Homo sapiens: one gene and its partners. The protein of the gene in region 3 interacts with the protein of the main gene of each other region in a pairwise test. Each region holds a gene or a part of one and is shown on either strand. Other genes may lie near its edges. The genes, in order: KPNA4, KPNA3 and TMEM276.

Region 1 (7,000 bases), on a different chromosome or scaffold from region 3:
TTCTTTCTGTATTTAGCTAAGTGTTCCTTCTTTAAAGTGCTTTAATTTTAAGGTACAGGGTCTCTAATCTGACTATGTATCAGTATCACCTGAAGAGCATTTTAAAGCTCAAGTTTCTAAGAAATATTTTCTGAAACAGAAATCTCCAGGGGTTGAGCAGGAGAAATTAAAAACAGCTCCACACAGTTTATTTTGATGTTCAGGCATAATGACTTAGGCTACAGACTAACGGTTTCTCTTATGCGATTATTGTACTTTACAGATTCTAAGCCATTAGCAGATTAAAATATACTATTTACCTCAGAAAGGTAGAGGGAGCTTGCTGCGTCTCCCCCATTACAACTGTAGCTTAACAGCTACTGCTTATATCTCTGAGAACTTCTCACACTCTGTTTTTGGCTCTTTCTAAATGCAAATTCTTTGGGATAAATATTATGTGAAAGAATTTAAACAATAAAAAATAAATTTAAATAAGTGAAAAGCAACAATTTAGAAAGTCCCTAAACAGCACATTTCAGTAGAGTACCCTTATTTCAGCACCAATGAAGATAAGAGTTAACTAAACTTGCCAGGTGAGTAAATAAGGATGGTTGGCAAGGAAGAAAAAAAAAGAAGTAGGGAAGTGAAAGAGGAAGAACAAAAAGAAGAGGAGTAGGAAAAAATAAGTGTCTGTCAATACTTGTTTCAGATGCCATGCATGTTGCTATAATGAACTTCCCTGGTCTACATTAAAAATCAGTAATCCGGCCAGGCATGGTGGTTCACACCTGTAATCTCAGCACTTTGGGAGGCTGGGGTGGAAGGATCATTTGAGGCCAGGAGTTCAAGAGCAGCCTGGCCAACATGGCAAAACCCTGACTGTATCAAAAATAGAAAAAAATTAGCTACACATGATGGTGTGTGCCTGTGATCCCAACCACTCAAGAGGCTGAGGTGGGAGAATGTTCCTTGAACCTAGGAAGTGGAGGTTGTAGTGAGCTGAGATCACGCCACCTCACTCCAGCCTGGGTGACAGTGAGACCCCATCTTAAAAAAAGAAATTAGTAATCTACAATGGCATCTTATTATTTATTTTCCCCTTTCCATCACAGATTTGTTGTTATGCTAAGAATATACTTTAAACTACTGAAATTGTCCATCTTTGAATGCCATGCTTAAAGCAATTAGTGGTAAGAAATACTTATAATTTAACTAAGAACAAACTTACCTGAACTTTAACTTCCTGGTGGCTGAGCAGAGGAACCAAATGAGGAACTATTCCAGAGTCTATTACCATCTGTATTTGTTCATTGCCAGCATCAGTAAGGTAAGAGAGGGCCCAGACTGTGTCTACCAGTATCTAATGAATAAAATAAAAATTCAAACAACTTTTAAATATTTTCTCATTTTAGTAATTCTTGACCAAACAACCATTCTAAAATTGTTCAACTACCTTCTTCCTTCTTTTCTTCTCTCAGTTTAATTCATTGGAATCTGATCGCTACGGTATTAAACATCATCATCTATAAATGTCTGTACTAAGACGTACATCTTTTAGCCATATTCAGGATTCTGATCCCAGATTAGTATCCAATCTTAGTTCACTAAGATACACACGCACACTACACAGCTCATAAAACAGGAGAAAAAGACATTCTCTTTCCCAAAGGCTGAGGGATAACAGGTCCAAAAACATTGTGGCTCATGTATAAAGCTGGAAAGACTACATGTATCCAACATGCACAGTTGTTCAAAACATCTGGGCTAGATGAATATATTCAAGGAGTTCTCTAGTATTGTAAGTACCATGTAGATATGCCTAAAGCCAATAACCCAAGTATTCATATTGTAGTATAAAATACTTTAATCTTTTCCAACCAGTTTGTTTTGCCTTACAGAACTGGAGACAACTTTTTTTTTTTTTTGAGACGGAGTCTCGCTCTGTCGCCCAGGCTGGAGTGCAGCAGCGCGATCTCGGTTCACTGCAAGCTCCGCCTCCCGGGTTCATGCCATTCTCCTGCCTCAGCCTCCCGAGTAGCTGGGACTACAGGCGCATGCCGCAACGCCTGGCTAAGTTTTGGCATTTTTCAGTAGAGACGGGGTTTCACCGTGTTAGCCAAGATGGTCTCGATCTCCTGACCTCATGATCCGCCCGCCTCGGCCTCCCAAAGTGCTGGGATTACAGGCGTAAGCCACTGCGCCCGGCCAGCAACTTCTTAAATAGTGGAAGTCCCCTACAGCTGCAGATCAAGACATTAAAATAATCATAGGTCAATCTGTGAGACCTGTAATTAAAACAAAAAATACGTACTTCACTACAGCTGCTACTTATGAAAAAAAAAAAAAAGCCTGTGTAATCAACTTCTACTAAGTAGCCTACCATTTTTTTTAACGATTACATCTTTAAGTACAACAGGCCATGTGTTTGATCTTTCCTAGTACGTTAGGTCCTAATTAGAAGTTATGACCAAAGGGCAGTATGACAAACAACTGTAACTGCTGCAAATAAATACACAAATTATTGACAAAGACATGGGAATAATAATTGTGCCTAAAACTACTTCCAAAGCCTTTCCAGAATATGAACTCTGTGTCAAGACAAGCTGGAGAAGTGTAAAACCTTTAAAACAATAAACTAGGCAGGGAGTAGTGGCTCACGCCTGTAACCCCAGCACTTTGGGAGACCAAGGCAGGTGGACTGCTTGAGCCCAGGAGTTACAGACCAGCCTGGGCAACACGGTGAAACCCCGTCTCTATGAAAAACAGAAACAATTCGGCATTGTTTATTTTTTCTTGTTTTTATGACCCTGACTTTAAAAAAATCGTAAAACTGTAAACTAATGTTATGCTTAGGACACCCAAGAGAAAATAAAAAAATAAGATAAAAAAAACCAAAAAGACACCCCGAAACTCCTAAAAGGTGAAAATAATGCTTTGCCATTGTTTCTTAGGAAATTCAAGAAAGCTCTAAGGATATTTCTAATGTAAAAAGAAGACATCAAATGAGAGTTCGCACAGGCTGGGTGTGGTGGCTCACGCCTGCAATCCCAGCACTTTGGGGGGCCAAGGTGGGTGGATCACGAGGTCAAGAGTTCAAGACCAGCCTGGCCAACATAGTGAAACCCTGTCTCCACTAAAAAATGCAAAAAAATTAGCCAGGCGTGGTGGCGGGCATCTGTAAACCCAGCTACTCGGGAGGCTGAGGCAGGAGAATCGCTGGAACCCAGGAGGCAGAGGTTGCAGTGAGTGGAGATCATGCCACTGCACTCCAGCCTGGGAAACAGTGCGAGACTCTGTCTCAAAAAGAAAAAAAAAAGAATTCACATAAAAAAATGGTATCAATATATGTGAAAAAACCTAAATTTCAATTTGCAAATGTAACTGAGTTTCTTTTCTGGAATATTAACATATGCTAAAATTTGTTGACATAGGCCAAAAATTTCAAGTTACTTGCTCATAACTGTATATAAAAGCTAGATACATGTTTTTAAAGGACATGTCACTAATATGCTCAGATCAAAATCATAATTCAAATCAAACTTCTAACACATTATTTAGTAAGCAATATTATTTGTTAATCATGTTACTAAAAAGAACAATGTAAACAGGCTTGAGAAATTCTTCAAGATACATCAAAGGCAAGAAAATGGAGTCACAGTCTCATCTAGATTGGAGTAAATAGGTGGAAAGAACACAATCTATCTCTAAATAAAGTCAACCAAGATGTCTTGTTTTCTAGTAGAGGTATAAACTTTGAAGTTAAATCTTTCTTGCCAATCGTTTTATTTATTTATTTATTTATTTATTTTTGAGACAGGGTCTTGCTCTGTCACTCAGGCTGCAGTGCAGTGACATGATCACAGTTCACTGCAGCCTTGACCTCCCCAGCTCAGGAGATCCTCCTGCCTCAGCCACTGAGTAGCTGAGACTACAGGTGCACATCACTATGCCTGGCTAATTTTTTGGTATTTTTCATAGAGACAGGGTTTCGTCATGTTGCCCAGGCTGGTCTCGAACTCCTGCACTCAAGTGATCCTCCTGCCTCAGCCTCCTAAAGTGCTGGGACAATAGGCATAAGCCACCACACCTGGCCTCTTGTAAATCTTTCAAAGCAAAATATTGAAATTCACAATTTAATCAAAGAACTTGGCTATTAAGGAGCCAAAACCAAAAATTACTTACACATTTTTTAAGATCCTAAACTATCTGGGGCTAAAAACAAACAAAAACTCTACCACAGAGATCATGTTCATCTAATGAATTTTATATATTATGTCACTGTTTGATACAGTAAAATTCTAATTTTAATTTGTTCCATACAAATTAAATTCTGGCCAAAAGGCATAGGCCTTTAAATTGTAAAGAAATGAAGCAGCTTGTCCAACACTGGTCACCATGCCAAACTGTTTTTAAAGAACCACATGAGTTCCTGATTGTTGCTAAACATTTCATTCATGTGTTTTCCCTTACCCATTATATTCCTGGTTTCTCTAACACACCAAAGGCTGGTCTGGCTTTTACAAGCACTCAGGGCAGTTTTCCACCTCATTCATACTCCCTGAGTTGCTTTTTCCTCTGCCATCTGTGTTAGTAAAAATAAGCAAAATATATTTGCTATGTTTAAAATCTTGCCTGCACTGATTTTTTTTTCCTGTTGTTTGGATAATCAAGTTATCTTGATAAATGAAGCCACTGCCAGTCACTGTAACTGAGAAATAGAATAAAAATGGAATTAAAGGGCAATTGATGTCCATGGTTTGGTATGTGTATATGAATACAAATCCATGCACAAACATTTTCCTTTTTCATCTTTCAAAAAACAAAAATAGCACTATTTGTGTGTGCTTTCATTGGCCAAACTGTCAAAATGACCTTCTGTAAAAAGCACAAGAACAATTAAAGACATGATCTTAGTAAGAGAAATCACCACTATCTGGCAACTTTAAAAACTTTTAATGTCAGTTTTTATAACACTAATATATACACATACATACAATATTGTCCACACCAAAATAACAGTTATGCTTGATTTCTTAACTGGTATTATATTTTGTGATATAGATAAACATAGAGTAAATATTAAAATATTATAAAATAACTAATCTAATATAAAATAACTCTTGAAATGGGAAAATCTGATAGTATGCTGACACAATGTGTTAGTATAATATTTCTCCCCTATGTCACAGGGGAAGCCCTAGAAATACATACATACATACATAAATATATAATAGGACACATTTACTCACATTTACATCTGTGTGATGAATTAAAACACAAAGGGCTGGAAGAATCTGAGGAGAGAAATATGTAGATTTAAAAACATACACAAATAAAAAATATATATATAATGGTATCTCTTTTAATTTTTTTTTAAAAGTGTTTACCTCCTGAATGGTTTCCATTGGTGGTGGTGGGTCTTTGTGGCGACATAAGTTGACCATAACCCAAGTAACATTTCTTAAGAATGTTATAGGAATAGATGGACTTATGAAGGAAAGTAAAGGTTTCACAACTCCAAGACTTATGACATAATCTCTACACTGGGGCCCATCACCTGTAGAAAAAAAGGATTAATTTACTCAATAAAACATACTGACAGTAAGCATTTTCAGAAAACACAAAGCACTGGGAATATGCTGCTTCATGTATTTTATCCAGATACACTGTTCAGTTTTAGACAATAACAAGCAGGCTCACATTCAAGGTCTCTGAGCCAAGAGAGGCAACATAAAGTGATAAGGTATTCTTTTGCACATTATTCCCATCTTCAGCATTTTGCTGCTCACTTAATTAAACTGCTGCTTTTAACTTCTCTCTCAACAATACTCTTGGTTTAACAAACTTTCATGTGATAAAAAAGATGTATCAAGAAAATATTTGTTGAATTTGTACTTATGATCCCGTATCAGAGCATCAAGGTTATGAACTATAAATTACTCTATACACTTAGAAAACTATGTCAGAAGAAAAGGGTGAACCAGTGCTAGAATAGTGGTTCTCAATGTGATTATTGGGCTCTAGCTCAGGCCTCCTGAAGCAGAAACTCTATGGGTTTGGAATTCTGTGTTTTAACAAGCACCCCATGTAGTCCTGATTGCATGCTAAGGTTTGAGAACCACTGCTGCAGAGAACTGCCAAGTTTAATTTCTGTATCTGAAGCATCACTGCAGTTTCTAATATGAAGCCATGTTGAAATGTTACCATAAGTGAAAGCACCTTCCCTTGCACTATAATATCTGGAGATAAAATGTTTGTTCTTTTTGCATCTTTATATTCATGTTAATTACGGAATGTCACTGGAATAAAAAAATGAAAGATCAAGATGCTGTATAATAGCTCTAAATCTAACATTTGGTATAAAAGCAAAAGAGTGAGGGAGTCTGGATATAGAAACAATAGCATTCCTAATAGTATAAACCCAATGTCAAGAATGGTTTACAGAGAAATTCTCCCTTAAAAACTCATAACCACTCTTTACTTTCATGTTGGCCCTGTATAAGGGCAATAAAGAGATGGCATATCAAAGCAACAATGATTATTTCCATGCAAGAATAAAGAATTTGGCAAAAATAATCTTTAGAATCATTCTCCTTCACTAGATTAGCAATACCCCTACAAACAGTACCTCAGCCCCCACTCATAACTGTTAGGTCTCTGAGCTATACTGGGGCACAATACAATTCAGATTTTTTCCATCCTTTACTGGAGAATAGTTCTTTGAATTTTTGAGTTTAGGCTCTAGTTAAAAAAACAAATCCTTGAAATATCAGAATTGTCTTTATTTTCCTTACAATTATTTATCAGAGAGAACCTGAAAGTTATAGTAATCACAGTGTTAAATATTTAACCAGACTGTCAAAAGGCTATGGTTATGTCTTGTTGATTCATGGTGACAGGAAATAATATTACTATATTTTATACATTACTAAATTCTAATGTACTGAAGTCTGCAAGAGAGAAAAAATTTCATTTTAGACTCTTCTCAGAACTGTCATTACGGAGAAAAATTATTGGTTTA
Region 2 (7,162 bases), on a different chromosome or scaffold from region 3:
CCATCAATCCACTCTTACCTCCACATTCCTCTATTATTTCAGCTATTGTGCTTGCTTCATCACCGGCCATTATCAGAATGTTTTTTAGACCATCTAGAACCACCTGAACCACTTGAGAATCTTTCACTGACAGTAAATTACAGAACGGTGGTATTACATTCTGCTGTACAAGGTACTCAACCTAGACAACAAAAGAGAAGAAATATTTTTATTTATATAATTATCTATTTCCCAGTAGGGTGTCGTGCTACATGGAAGGCTGAGGCAGGAGGCTATCTTGAGCCCAGGAGTTGGAGGCTGTAGTGCGTTATGGTCATGCCTGTGAATAGCAACTGCACTCTAGCCTGGGCAACATAGTGAGACTCCATCTCTTAAAATAATAATAATTATCTTTTCCCCAAAAAGAACACAATACAGTCAGCAACTACGAAACATAAGAGAGCAGCATGCTTTCCAGTATTAACAATCATGACAGTTACAGGTTTTCAAACTCACCTGATCTTTTCTGCCACTTATTGTTAAGTTGCTGATTGCCCAAGCAGCTTCTTTTTGTGTTCCAAAGTCCCCCTGAAGGTTAAAAATGAGATCATAAAATGGACTCTTTATCCAAAAAGTCTTGGTTATTAACAGATTAACAGACACGGTGAACTCATAATATGACCAACCTTAGCAAGCTGATGAATTATCATAGGAATTAATCCAGCATCTATTACAGCTTGAACTTGTTGCTGGTTGCCTGCTGTTATGTTGGAAAGGAACCACACTGCTTCCTATAATTGAACAAAATATAGGGCACCTTTATTTGAAAAATAATACCTTTAATGTCTTTCTAATATATTTTATATAGACAATAACAAAATCACCTGAATTACGTTAAAGAGACTGCACCTAAAAAGTGATTAGGTATACAAAATCTTCCATTTTAAACAAGTTATAAGGAAATTTCCATTAATTATATTTGGGCTCCAATAACCTGGCATTTATCCATTCATTAATATATAGGCCTACTATAAGCTAGGCATTATTCTAGGAAATGGTGATTTTATAGAAATGAACAAAACAGAAATCTTTATTCATGGAGCTTACATGTCTGTGCATTAGCTTCCTCTAAAAGACAGAAATAAATATACAACTGAATTTCTTTTTTCTTTTCTTTTTTTTTTTGAGACGGAGTCTTGCTCTGTCGCCCAGGTTGGAGTGCAGTGGCGTGATCTCGGCTCACTGCAAGCTCCGCCTCCCGGGTTCACGCCATTCTCCTGCCTCAGTCTCCCGAGTAGCTGGGACTACAGGCACCTGTCACCACGCCCAGCTAATTTTCTTCTATTTTTAGTAGAGACGGGGTTTCACCGTGTTAGCCAGGATGGTCTCGATCTCCTGACCTCGTGATCCACCCGCCTAGGCCTCCCAAAGTGCTGAGATTACAGGCATGAGCCACCGCGCCCAGCCACTATACAACTGAATTTCTAAAACTACTTAAAAACTACTTCTAATAAAGGTGATTTCTTTTTTAATTTTAAAAAATATTTACTCACAAGATATAGTCATTCAAGTATTCCATAAAAATTAACCATCTAACTAGTCTAGCATGGGTCTATATAACATAAATATTCTAAAACTAAGGGATTTATAAGTCATAAACACGTCTGTGAGCTGTTTACAGGTTAGTATCACATGTGTATCTTCCTCTTCCACAAATGAATTTGTTTTGCCATCCAACTGTGGTAAGTTGTTAATAATTGCTGAATCTGTGTTTAGAGTACATGGGTGTTCACTATACTATTCTTGCACATTTTTTGTAGATTTAAAAAGTTTCAAACAGAAATGCTGAGGGAAGAAAATCAAGTTGGTAACTTCTACTTCCAGGGTCCTATGATAGTCTCAAAATGCAAGTAACAAATTTTCAAGGCAAAAAATTTTTGAAGTAACTAATTGCTTGCTGAAGTTGAGATGGCATTTCTATGAAATTTTCCTCTACCCCCCACGATACCCTCACTTAAAAGCATACTACATCACAGGCCGGAACCTTTCTCTGCTGACTTCTGCCCAGCTTCCTCACTTCTCAGTTGTTTCCAATTATGGAATATATTCATTTAGCTAAAAAAAAAAAAATCACCTATATTGTTAAAAATTTCTTTAGTAAAAGTAACTGGCCCAGAGTCTGAAAGTCTCTGGCTTCTTTGTCTTCACTGGAACAAATGTATCTATAAAATGTGTTTTTTGACACCATACTTTTCTATAAGAACCCAACAGTCAAATTATACTCAAGCAACTATACAAATATAGTTATGATGACGAAGAAGAAATGATCAGTTCTGCTGGGTTTGGGTGATGGTAGTATATTAGGCAGATAAAACTTTAGTAAACTAAATGTAAATTTATTTCTTTTTCTTTTTTCCTTTTTTTTTTTTTTTGAGACAGAGTCTTGCTCTGTCGCCCAGGCTGGAGTGCAGTGGCACAAACTTGGCTCACTGCAAACTCCACCTCCTGGGTTCATGCCATTCTCCTGCCTCAGCCTCCTGAGTAGTTGGGACTACAGGCGTCTGCTACCACACCCGGCTAATTTTTTGTAATTTTAGTAGAGACGGGGTTTCACTGTGTTAGCCAGGATGGTCTCAATCTCCTGACCTCGTGATCTGCCCGCCTCGGCCTCCCAAAGTGCTGGGATTACAGGCATGAGCCACCATGCCTGGCCAACTAAACGTAAATTTAAACCACAATGAGACACCACTTCACATCTACTAGGATTGTCAGTAATTTTTTTTAACAGAAAATAAACGTTGGCTAGGATGTGGAGAAATTAGAATTCTAGTAACACTGCTGGTGGGAATGTAAAACAGTGCAGCTGCAATGGAAAACGGTTTGGTGGTTCCTCAAAAAGCTAAACCCAGAATTAACATATGATCGAGCAATTCTACTTGCAGTTATATATCCAAAGAAATTGAAAGCGGGAACTCAAATAGGTATTTGTATGCCAATGTTCACTGCAGCATTCTTCGTAATAGTGAAAAGGTGGAAACAACCGAAGTGTCCATCAACAGAAGAATGTAAAAACAAAATGTGGTGTATACATACAATGGAATATTTATTCAGCCATAGAAAGAATAAAGTTCTGACACATGCTGCAAAATGAATGAACCTTGAAAACATGCTAGATGAAATAAGCCAGGCATGAAGACTTATTACATACTAGTAAGTACATATTACACAATTAATAATAAACTTGTCTATGAAGCTTGAAATCTTAAAAAGAGTAATTTTTTATGATCCTTGAATTTAGGCACCTCGTCTTTGGGTCCAAACTAATTTTGCTGGGAGATCAAAATTTTTATGATCGGTTTGTTTAAAAAAATACCAGCCCATTCAAATGGCAGATTTTGTCTGCACTTTCAAGCGGCTACTAATTTAATGATTGTTGCTATGCTCAGTCTACTTAAATAGAAACACAGGTAGTCTAAAAATGTTTTTTACTCTGTGATGACCAGGGCAGCACCTACCAGAAGCGATTAAAAGTTGAAAAAGGCTGGGCGCGGTGGCTCACGCCTGTAATCTCAGCACTTTGTGGGGCTGAAGCAGGCGGATCACAAGGTCAGGAGTTCGAGACCAGCCTGGCCAATATGGTGAAACCCCATCTCTACTAAAAATACAAAAATTAGCTGGGCGTGGTGGCGGGCACCTGTAGTCCCAGCTTCTCGGGAGGCTGAGGCAGGAGAATCGCTTGAACCCAGGAGGCAGAGGTTGCAGTGAGCCGAGATCGTGCCACTGCACTCCAGCCTAGGCAACAGACAGACTCTGTCTCAAAAAAAAAAAAAAAAAAGTTGAAGAAAAACATTTGCAGAGGTGATTTAAAATAATTCTCATCTTCGCTGCAGTGGCTTTTAAGAAAAACATACAAGTAGCAATAGAAACAAGGAGACAGTTAAAAATGAGACACAGAAAGAAATAGCATAATGAGGACATTATATGCCTTACCTTATTTATCTTCTCTTTTGGGTGTGATAAGAGATTTGGGAAGTGTGACAGGACATCACAATTGAGAACAACCTGGGTCTGCTCGTCGGTGCCAGTCACTATGTTGCCAACTGCTCTGAGGGCTGCTGTCTAGGGTGGGGATAAAATGTTTTCTATAAATTTATTTGCTTATAAGACTAATTCTATATTTTTCATAATCCTGAGAAAAAGTAAAAATGCAAGGCATAAATAACACTTATTTCATCCTTTCACAAAGCACCAAGCAGTCTGAGAGCTATTCTGAATTTTAAATAGTCTCTTGTGAAAAACTGAAACTTTATGAAAAAAAAAAATTGTGTGAAAATTGGTTGGAAAAAGATTCAAAAAATAAAAGGAAATTAAAATTTTAGAAGAAGTCCAGTTTCTTAAGGCTGGGCATGGTGGCTCATGCCTATAATCCCAGCATTTTGGGAGGCCGAGGCGGGGGGGATCACCTGAGGTCAGGAGTTTAAGACCAGCCTGGGCAACATAGTGAAACTCCATCTCTACTAGAAATACAAAAATTAGCTGGTGTGATGGTGCATGCCTGTAATCCCAGCTACTCTGAAGGCTGAGGCAGGAGAATCACTTGAACCTGAGAGGCAGAGGCTGCGGTGAGCAGAGATCGCGCCACCATACTCCAGCTTGGGCGACAGAACAAGACTCCATCTCAAAAATATATATAATATTTTAATAAACGCCTGGAATGGGCACACACTTCCACCTAGAAAGTCACTTTGGTAAAGCAGGATGAACAGATCTAATAAGTGCCTACCCCTAATTAGAGTGGGAGAGAGAAAGAAGAAATGCAATTAGGTTATTGCAATTATTTGGGGGAAAGATAGAGTCTTGAACTAAATCTGTTGTTCTAGATAGATAAGGAGAGACAGATTTGAACCTATATAAGAAGAATTGAAATGATTTTGTAATGGAATGGGAATTGCAAGGAGGAATCAAAATTTCTAGCTTAGGCCATGCTGTTCACTGAAGGTAGACAAGGAAGAAGAGCAGGTTTGTGGGAGATGATCGTTTCATTTCTGTCTAGTTAACCACGGAAAGCTTGAAGGAGTTCTTAGATGATATGTATAAAGGGTCAAGAACAATTGGCTATACAAGTGTGGAACTCAGCAAAGAAACTGGGTGAGATAAAGATTTGGAAATCAACAAAATCAGGCTCAGGGACTAGCAGAAGAAATGTGGAAGATAAGCACTTACAGATAGAATTAAAGCCTAGCTGTACAAGTTAACTGGTTATAGCAAACACAACTGTATACAAATAAGAAAAATTTAAAAATACTTACTTGAACTTTGACTTCCTGATGGCTCAGAAGGGGCACAAGAAAGGGCACAACTCCTGAATCAATAACCATCTGTATCTGTTCATTACCTCCATCTGTCAAGTATGACAGAGCCCAAACAGTGTCTACAAGAATCTACAGGAAACACAAAAGAAAAACCATTTTACATATTTGTTTGAATGCTTTACTTGTTCAACACACCTCAGGAGTAGTGACAGAAAAAGTAACCAAATTTCAAGTTTTAGCTTAGTGGCAAAAATATCTGCTTAGCTGATTAATCTATTAAGTAGAAAGTACCTTATCTTTCTTTCAGTGCCTACCTCAGATCATTCTTCACAGAAAATGAGACACAGAAGTCTGGGAAAACTTCTATTCCAACTTCTGCATTTATGTATCAGACAGATGAATTTAAAAACAGGCAGAAAAGTAATTCTCCCTGCCCTCACAAATTAGCTACCTAATAATCCCACAGAAAAACACTATTTACAAGAATGAGGCCAACACACCATACTGTTTCAAGTTCAGAAGAGAACAGAAAGGTCATCTATTTACTCTACTGGTTTTCCAACATATTTAGCAATACAATTTTTCAGGCTACTAAAGTAAACCAATAAAAGAAATGACTTGGCACTTTAACTTCATCTGGGGAAAAAACTGTTTGAAAATCTCCTGAAATGTGTCCCCAACTGAAGTATAAACCTGGAGTATAAACCATGCCCTAGGCCTATCCTAACTTTGCAACTACATAGAAGAAAACAGGCTTAGCGATCTGGTGATTCATTCAAGGTCAAAGATCTTGTATGTGGCATTGCTTGGTGTCGTCACAGAGGAATATAAGCACTGGTTGTAGCTTATGCAAAATCAAGATGTTTCCTATTAGGTCATCCAAATTGAAGACATCACATCTTTTTGCCCTAAAATAATAGCAGGCACCTGAATTCACATACCCTTCAAAAAAGGATATAGATGAATAAATAAAATAGAACTACACATATAACCCACACCCCTTCAGCATTACTAAGAGTCAGAGAACACTAAAAATTTCCATTATCTGTAAGAGGAGAAAAAATTAAATTCTAGCTTTTGTCTGGACCTCTTGCCTCAAGACTGTGTAAAAGAGAGGACAGAAGCTGGGCCTAAGAGCTGAGCCCACCTACCAGCCCATTTCCCACTCTGGAAGTGAGGAGGCCTCCCTGCTGGAGGTGTCTGCAGATGCTGGGTCTGAGAACAAAGTCTGGCTACTGCCCACCCTGGCAGTAACAGTAACTAGATTTACCTAGAAACAGGGGTCTCAAAGCATAACACCAATATGTGTAGGCTACAATGGAAAATAACCCTTCATACCAAGATCCAGGAAATTCTCAAAAGAGAAAAGACAGTCAACAGATGCCAATATTGAGATGACACACATATTGGAATTATCTGACAAGGACTTGATAAGATTTTAAAGTAACTATCATAAAAATGCACTGGTGAACAATTATGAACACATTTGAAACAAATTTAAAGTGGGAATTCTCAGCAAAAAAACCCGACATGATAGAAGGGGGAAAAAAAAATAAATGAACCCAAAGATACATCAATAGAAATCATCCAAACTGAATAACAGAAAAAAAAAAAGATTAAACAGAAATTAACTCTCAGGAACTTCCAGCACAATAACAATAGATCTAATATTTGTGTCTTCAGAGACCCTACAAGGAAAGGCGGAGCTGAAAAAAATATGAAGAAATATGTTCCAAATTTGGCAAAATAGATAAGTCTAGAATCAGATTAAAAAATGGGAGGTTGAGGCAAGAAGAGAAAATAGAATAAGCTCATGCATCATTGCACAGGTAAGAGACAGAAGTAAAAAAATATATCATTTAAAACTGTCA
Region 3 (7,086 bases):
TGTTAGGGGCTCTCGCCCCCTTCCCCGCAGGGGAAGGACACAAGTGAAAAATCCCGCCGGCCACCCCTCTCTGTCGGGTGCGGGACCCCTTAGGTCTCCACAGGAGCAAGCGGAGAGACTTCCAGGAGAGGGGACTCCAGACCCCTAACCCACCGGAATCTAATCCTCTGCTCGTCCGAACCCCCTCTAACCCTGGGGTTGGAGACTGAAGGGGTCCACTGAGGAAAACGAAGGTATTAGGGAATAGGGCTGGCTTCCACAGGCCGGAGGTACACAGGAGGGCGAATCAGCTCTGGGAAGGATGTGCGTTTCTCGAAACGCCTGTGGTACAGCCCTCCCCTGCCTCCACCCTACTCTTCAGTTCTTGAAGGTCACTGCCCCAGAGGGCCACCTGCCAGGCCAGGCCAGGATATCTGGAACTCCACCATGTCCCTGGAGAGTAAGGGCCCAGGGCTATGTCTTCTCAGCCCAGGGGTCTTCCTGACAATAGTCAAAAGGAGGCCGGGCTGCATGAGACCCCATCCTAGTTCCAGCACATACCCTGTCAGGGTAACTGACTACTGTCCTGAGGGGCCTTAGGAAGCTCACTGAAAGATCCCTCAATCCCTCTCAAAAATGGGCAGTTTTCATATTCCTGCAAAATTCCTAAGATTTATTGGAGACTAGGCCTCTTCTCTGGATCCACAACCGTGTCCAGCCCAGAATCAGGACCCCCAAACGTGTCTGGGACCCTGTCCCTTTCATTCTGGTCTAGACAAGTCCCCACACGTGGCCAAAGGACAGCACCCAGACTCTGCCCCTGACCAGTCAATGTGCAGCAAACCCACTTCAGTAGGCAGAAGAGTCTACCCCTAGGGAGAAGGCGCCAGGAGCAGGCAGGTGGGAGGGAAAGTGTTCGGCAGGGCAGAAACCCTGCCTGGCTGTATCCAACTGTCACTCCCACTGGAGGCGCTGTGTATGCAGGGCCCGGCAGTAAGCCCAGCTGCCTACAGCCAAGGCCCAGCGACAGACATCCTCCTTCGGTAGCAGCAGCAGCCTGTCCTCCTCCAGCCGGCTCAGGAGGCCTGCCACACCCAGCATCGCCCCCCCCCACATCCCATAAGTGTTGGCCGTGAAGACAGCTACAATGAGGATGGTCACTGCGACCACCAACAGCATTGCCTGACCAGCCACAGAGCGGCCCTCAGGGCCGAGGTGGCCGCCAGCCACTGCCAGCACCATGCCTCCTCCCAGGAGCAGGTTGGCAGAGGAGCGGTCCCCATTCACCCAGTGGAAATCGAAGGCCAGAAGGGGAAGGCCGATGACGGTGGCCACCCAGGCTCCAGCAAGGCAGTCTTCGTGTGTGCTCAGCCCTGGGGCCAGCGTGGTGGTGGCAGCCAAGACCTGGAGCAGGAAGCCAGCAGCAGCCCCTCGACTTGCCTGTCAACACAGGGAAGGGAGAACACGTGGGAAAAAGAGGCCGGGGTCACCCTTTTAAACAGGAAAGGGTTTGGGGCTTCCATGGAGACCTGGTCTTAGACGCACTTCCCACCAACCTCTCTCTAATTCAGGAAACTAGGTCCTTGGGGTTTGGGAGGTATGGGGATGCGCCCCTGCTCAGCCCCAGTGTACTCACCTCGGCTGTGCTCACGGCTGCGTGCAGAGACACCACTCCCAGCACCAGATGGGACAGGGCTGTGCTCCACTCGGCCCCCGGCTTGGGGGCCATGGCACCTCAGGCGGCAGTATGTACGAGGACACAGATAGGAGATACTCAACTTTGGAGAGGAAGGAAGCGCAGAAGCCAGCGACCTGGAGCCCTACGCGCGGCACTCTAGTAAGCCCAGGTTCCAGGTCCCCATTACTGGATGTTAGGAGAAGTTCAGTCCTAGACTTTCCGGATCCCTGAGGCCACTGCACACACCTGTGGAGAAGAAGAACCTAATTCAGCCGGGAAACGGGGGAAAACGACTCAGGGTCTAAGCTGGGGGGAACGTCAGCCCTGGGGCCCTGGAGCCCAAGTGGGAGTGCGGGCCTGGGGAAGAGAGAGCGGCGAGGCGCTGCAGGCCCACGCGGCGGCCTCGGCCTGCTCCCTGCGTTCCGGGAGGCGTTGTCCTGGGAACCCGGGTCCAGGAGGAGCGACGGCGCAGGACTCCGGGAGGCCAGCCGTGCGCAGTTACCGGGCTGCGCGGTCCCAACGCAGCGGCGAGCGGGAGGCCCGAGCCTGCGCAACGCACCGCCCACCGCCGTCGGCCCTGCCTCCTCTGCCGTGCCCCCAGTTGCGGGAGCGAGCGCGGTCGGGAACCTCCACCAGCGAGAGGAGCGGAGGCTAGAGCGGCCGGGCGGGGCTAGAGCGGCTGGGGGGGGAGGGTCGAGGCCTGGGGGAGAGGGTCGAGACCTGGGGGGGGCCGGTTGGAGGCCGTAGGAGCGGGTGGGGTCGGGAGGAGCTCGGGGACCAGAAAACGCTCTGTTTGGGTGGGTGCGTGCGTGGGCATAGTGGTTTGGAAGGAGCGTGATGAGGGGAGAAGGGCCGGGGCGGGGCTGCGAGGGGCGGGGTCTGGGCGGGGCTGCGAGGGGCGGGGGGTCTGGGCGGGGCTGAGGGAGATAAGGTTTAGGCGGGGCTGAGAGCGGCGGGTCTGAGAGGGAGGGGGCCTGGGTGGGGCGGGGCCTGGGCGAGGATGCGATGGGGGGGTCTGGGCGTGGCTGCGAGGGGCGGGGCCTGGGCGGGGCTGCGAGGAGAGGGGTCTGGGCGAGACTGAGAGGGACCGAGAGGGGAGGAGCCTGGGCGAGGCTGCAAGGAACGGGGTTTGGGCGGGGCTGCGAGGAGGGGGGGTCTGGGCGGGGCTGAGATGGGCGGGGCTGAGATGGGCGGGGCTGTAGGGAGAGGAAGGAGAACCCCGGCGTGTTGAAGGCTCCGCGAAACCGGAGCGGTGGGGGACTACGCGGAGGGTGGGAGGGATTCCGAGAGGAGGGTCGCGGGAGCCGTGGGCGCTCTCAGCCCGGTGTCCGCGGTGTAGGGGTTGGGGCGCGCCGGGCGGCGCCGTGAGAAACGGCGGGTCTCCAGGTGCGGCCGCGGGCACCTGTTTCTAGTACCCCCGTCCCCGCGCTCGCCTTCCAGCCGTGGGAGCCGGGCCGTGGGGGCGGCCGTCGCGAGCATGCGCACCGGCACTGCGGCGGGCGGGCGCCGAGTCTGGGCGCGGGGACGCGGGGCGGCGCGAAGCGGGGCCCTCTGCCGCCCCGCGCTCCCATGTACGCCTTTTACTCGTTGCTCATCTACATCTTCTACAGCCTCTTCCGCAGGGATGGTGGCGCCGCGGCGGCCGCGGAGCCCGGGGACCCCGCCCAGGTGAGCGGGGCTGGCCGTGCAGCCCGTCGTCTCCCGCCGCCTGCCCCACCCCCACGCCGAGGTTCCCGGGGCGGGGGCGGGCACGGGGCGCGGGGCGACGGGGCCGTGCCGAGGACCCTCGGCTCGGCCCCGATGCTGGAAGCGTAGACTTCGGCCCCAATCCTCCGGCCCGGTTCGCGGAGGGAAGGGGCCAGCAGGCTGCCTGCCCCCCTCCTCAGGGGCGCCCCTGCCCCCTCCCTAGAGAGCCCGCAAGCCCCGGGGTCGCCGGCGCCCAGACCTGCCCGCGCCAGAGCTGTGGACCGAGCTGACCGGCCTGGCCGGTAGGTGCGGGCTGGGAGTCCCGCGGTGCGAGGGCGGTGCCGGGACCTCCCAGGGAGGGGCGGAGGCCTGGCTCAAGCACGTGACCCGAAATGTCTCCCGCCCTCCTCCCTGACCGGCAGCCAGCTCCGAGCCTGAGGATGGGTCGGAAGGCGCAGCCGAGGGCCGCGCGGCCGCGGTGTCCCTGGAAGAGGCCCTACTGCGCCTCGCCGAGTTCCTCTCCGTCCAGCTGGGGGCGGAAGAGAGCTGCGGGGGCCCGGCGGACCTGGGCCAGGTGAGCGCGGCGGAGGGGGCTGCTGGCAGGTACCACCTGCCCCGGCCTTCCTGGCTTTCACAGCCCTGCTCGGATTCTTGTCTCCTTCGCAGTCTGGCGAGGTCCCCTCACTGTTGACAGTGACCAGTCAGCTCTTGGCCCTTCTGGCATGGCTTCGAAGCCCCAGGGGGAGGCAGGCCCTGCTCCAGGGGACTCAGCCAGCCCCTCGGGTCCGGCCCCCCTCTCCAGATGGTGAGTAAAGGACAGTAAGTTGAAGAAGAACTCTGGAGGGAGCAAATCCCGGTAGAACCTGGGCGGCCTGGAGTTCGGGGTCATGTTCCGGAAGATTTGGACTAGAGACCTCTTCAGTGCTAACTGGGCCCACCCTACTCCAGGATCCACATCCCAAGAAGAAAGCCCTTCCCACTTCACCGCAGTCCCAGGCGAGCCACTGGGGGATGAGACCCAGGGACAGCAGCCCCTCCAGTTGGAGGAGGATCAGAGGGCGTGGCAGCGGCTGGAGCAGCTCATCCTGGGACAGGTGAGGTCCCTGGAGCCAGAAGGGATTGCCGGCTGGGACGCCAGAAAAAGGAGGTCCACCCTGTCTCTCTTACTTCTCCCCAGCTGGAGGAGCTGAAGCAGCAGCTGGAACAGCAGGAGGAGGAGTTGGGTCGACTGCGCCTGGGCGTGGTGAGGCTGCAGGGAGACCTGGCAGGGCCGGGCATGGAGGGGGTGCTTCAGGTGAGTGCCGAGGTTTCCTCTCCACCAGGGGGCGACGGACTCAGAGAAAAGGGTTCAGCATCTGACTCTGGAGAACGAGGCCCTGAAGCAGAGCCTGAGTCTCATGCGGGACCTCCTGCTGCACTGGGGCCCCGGGCCCCCCATCAGGGCTCCGCAGGTACTCTGCTCCCGAGCTGCAGCCGTTCCTGCAGCCTGGGGCTCTTGCACACCTGGCATGCAGCCACAGGGCCCGAGCCTCCTCAGGACCTCCCGGGATGGTCTGTGTAGGGCAGCCCCATCAGGGAGGCTGATGCCAATGGGAAGACCCCCCTCTCCGTGGCCCCTCTGAGTGGCTGACCCCAGGAGAGCAGAGGGACTGTGGGAAGGAGGTCTGCGTGGAGCTGGGAGGCATGGGTTCACAGCCAGCTCTGCCCACCTCTTGACTTGACTTTCCCATCTGTGAAATGGTACCACAGACCGTCCCTCTCTGAGTCCCTCCTGGCCCCCACCCTCCCGCAGGAGGAGGCAGAGGCATTGCTAGAGCTCCAGGGCCGGCTTCAGGAGGCCCAAGACACCACAGAAGCCCTCCGAGCCCAGGTGGGCATGGGGCCCAGGGATCCATGGCTCAGGGGTGAGGCGGGCTGGGGTTTTGGGAGGGGCTTATCTGAGGCAGGGCCTGGTAAGTGCCTGTTTCCTCAGTGACAGGGGTGGGGTTGGGCGGGGCAGCTGGGGGTGCAGGAGGTGCAGCTGCAGGGCCTTCAAGGGGCCCTCCAGCAGCTCCAGCAGGAGACGGAGCAGAACTGCAGGCGTGAGCTACAGCAGATGCATGGGCAGCTGGCAGGTAAGGGTTGGGGTTGGGGCTCATGGGAGGCCCTGGAGGCTGGGCCTTCCCTTCCAACAGACTTCCCTCTCCAGGACTTCGGGCACGGATGGCCAGCCTGCGTCAGGGCTGCGGGGACCTCCGAGGTTTGGTCAGCACCTTTACCCAGAGCTGTCAGGGTTCGCTGAGTGAGGCCCGGGGCCAGGTCAGGACCCCTCCCCGCCTAGCCCCTCCTCTCTGGGCAGCCTATTCACTGTTCTTTTGACGGGGGCGTTCCTGGGGAGTTGGCTGTACTAATAAGTGGGGCTCTGGAACCCAAACAGCTTCTGTGTGACCCAGGGTGGGATTCCACTTCTGGGCCTTATTTTAATTCTATGCATACTTGGTTGACAGTAAACTCTTAAAGCATTGCCCAGAAGCACGGAGGAGACAGATGATGTGGTGTTCCTGCCTGTCATTCCTGGGCTTTATCCTGGGGTTACTCAATGATGTCCCCAGGGGCCCAGAGCCACTGAAAGTTGTGGCTTAGCACAGCTGAGCGGGCCTGTGGGGGCTCCCTGCTGCTCTCAGGACCCTCCCACCCCCCACCTCCGCAGCTCCTTGGCTGACCCCTTGCCTTCTGTACATCCCTGTTCCCTCAGGTGTCCTGGGCCTTGGGGGCACTGTCATCTGGAGGGCCTGGCACTCAGCTCCCTGAGGGGCAGCAAGGGCCCCCAGCCGGATGCCCAGGGCGGCTGCCAGAACTCAAGGGTATGACAGGCTTGGGAGCCTAGCGGGGCAGGGAGGGCGGCTGGAAGAAGTGCAGCTTCTCTGTGCTTTAGGGTCTGCGAGGCATTATGCTGACCTGATCCCCACTGCAGGAAATATCCGTGTGCTGTGTCGGCTGAGGCCAGGGACATCTTCTAGCCTTGTGAGTGTGGAGCCTGGCCCAGGGGGCACCGTCACCACCTGCTACCGGGGGCGCCATCGTCGATTCCGCCTAGACTGGGTCTTCCCTCCAGACGCCAGCCAGGAGGAGGTGACAGCCTGCCTTTGCAGCCATCCTGACCCTTTTTCAGAGTTCCCTGAAGAGCAGGAGAGGCTCCAGTTTCCCCTTCCCAGTCTGGGTGTCCACCTGGAGGAGAGAGGGTGGCTGGGCTCTAGCCAGGAAGGAAAGGGAACCGAGGGGGCTGGGAAGCAGGGCAGGCAGCCCAGCTTGGTGCCTCCTCCTCCCAGGCTTCACTGCCTGCCCACTCCCCTTTGCTGGGGTCCAGGGTTTGCCCAGCTATGAGGGCCCCTCATTGCTTTATGGCCCCAAGGCAGGCGGTGGGTGGTGGGGGCCGTGGGTGAGGAGGCAACCTTCTAGTCTTAGTGTGCTCTCTCTGCCTTGCCTGGATCCCACTCTCCTTCCCCACCCTTTTCCTGCCAGACACCTGTGGAAAAGCAGGGGCTTCAGCCCCAGCCCACCCCACTTTCACACACGTTTTCATCTGCACATGCCCTTTGCTGCTACAGCTCCCATAGCTAAGGAGATGGCAGCTCAGAGCCAGGGGAGACTAGGTAAGGGGCAGAATGGCAGCGACTCCCAACCAGGCTGCCTGCCAGCCTCACAGGGACAGGGGGACGACTGCCCAGCAGGTGGCCAGGGTCACCCTGATTGCCTCTTTTCCA

Evidence for each region.
Region 1: the proteins of TMEM276 (region 3) and KPNA4 interact in binary tests that used the Homo sapiens proteins (3 or more experiments, as listed by UniProt).
Region 2: the proteins of TMEM276 (region 3) and KPNA3 interact in binary tests that used the Homo sapiens proteins (3 or more experiments, as listed by UniProt).

Annotation. Positions count from the first base shown.
Region 1 is NC_000003.12:160,520,572-160,527,571, forward strand, and holds part of KPNA4 (importin subunit alpha-3), read right to left. Parts: intron 5,537-7,000; coding exon 5,367-5,536; intron 5,274-5,366; coding exon 5,229-5,273; intron 1,340-5,228; coding exon 1,208-1,339; intron 1-1,207. UniProt on the Homo sapiens protein: Functions in nuclear protein import as an adapter protein for nuclear receptor KPNB1. Binds specifically and directly to substrates containing either a simple or bipartite NLS motif.
Region 2 is NC_000013.11:49,705,603-49,712,764, forward strand, and holds part of KPNA3 (importin subunit alpha-4), read right to left. Parts: intron 5,421-7,162; coding exon 5,289-5,420; intron 4,099-5,288; coding exon 3,970-4,098; intron 771-3,969; coding exon 666-770; intron 568-665; coding exon 496-567; intron 182-495; coding exon 19-181; intron 1-18. UniProt on the Homo sapiens protein: Functions in nuclear protein import as an adapter protein for nuclear receptor KPNB1. Binds specifically and directly to substrates containing either a simple or bipartite NLS motif.
Region 3 is NC_000008.11:144,463,194-144,470,279, forward strand, and holds TMEM276 (transmembrane protein 276 precursor), read right to left. Parts: upstream 2,300-7,086; 5' UTR 2,160-2,299; exon of another isoform or gene 1,904-2,159; 5' UTR 1,709-1,903; coding exon 1,616-1,708; intron 1,420-1,615; coding exon 934-1,419; 3' UTR 632-933; downstream 1-631. Other genes in the region: TMEM276-ZFTRAF1 (uncharacterized protein LOC157542 isoform 1 precursor), read right to left, coding at 1,267-1,419, 1,616-1,708; kinesin-like protein KIFC2, read left to right, coding at 3,227-3,325, 3,567-3,645, 3,766-3,917, 4,010-4,148, 4,292-4,437, 4,521-4,586, 4,666-4,794, 5,136-5,213 and 4 more.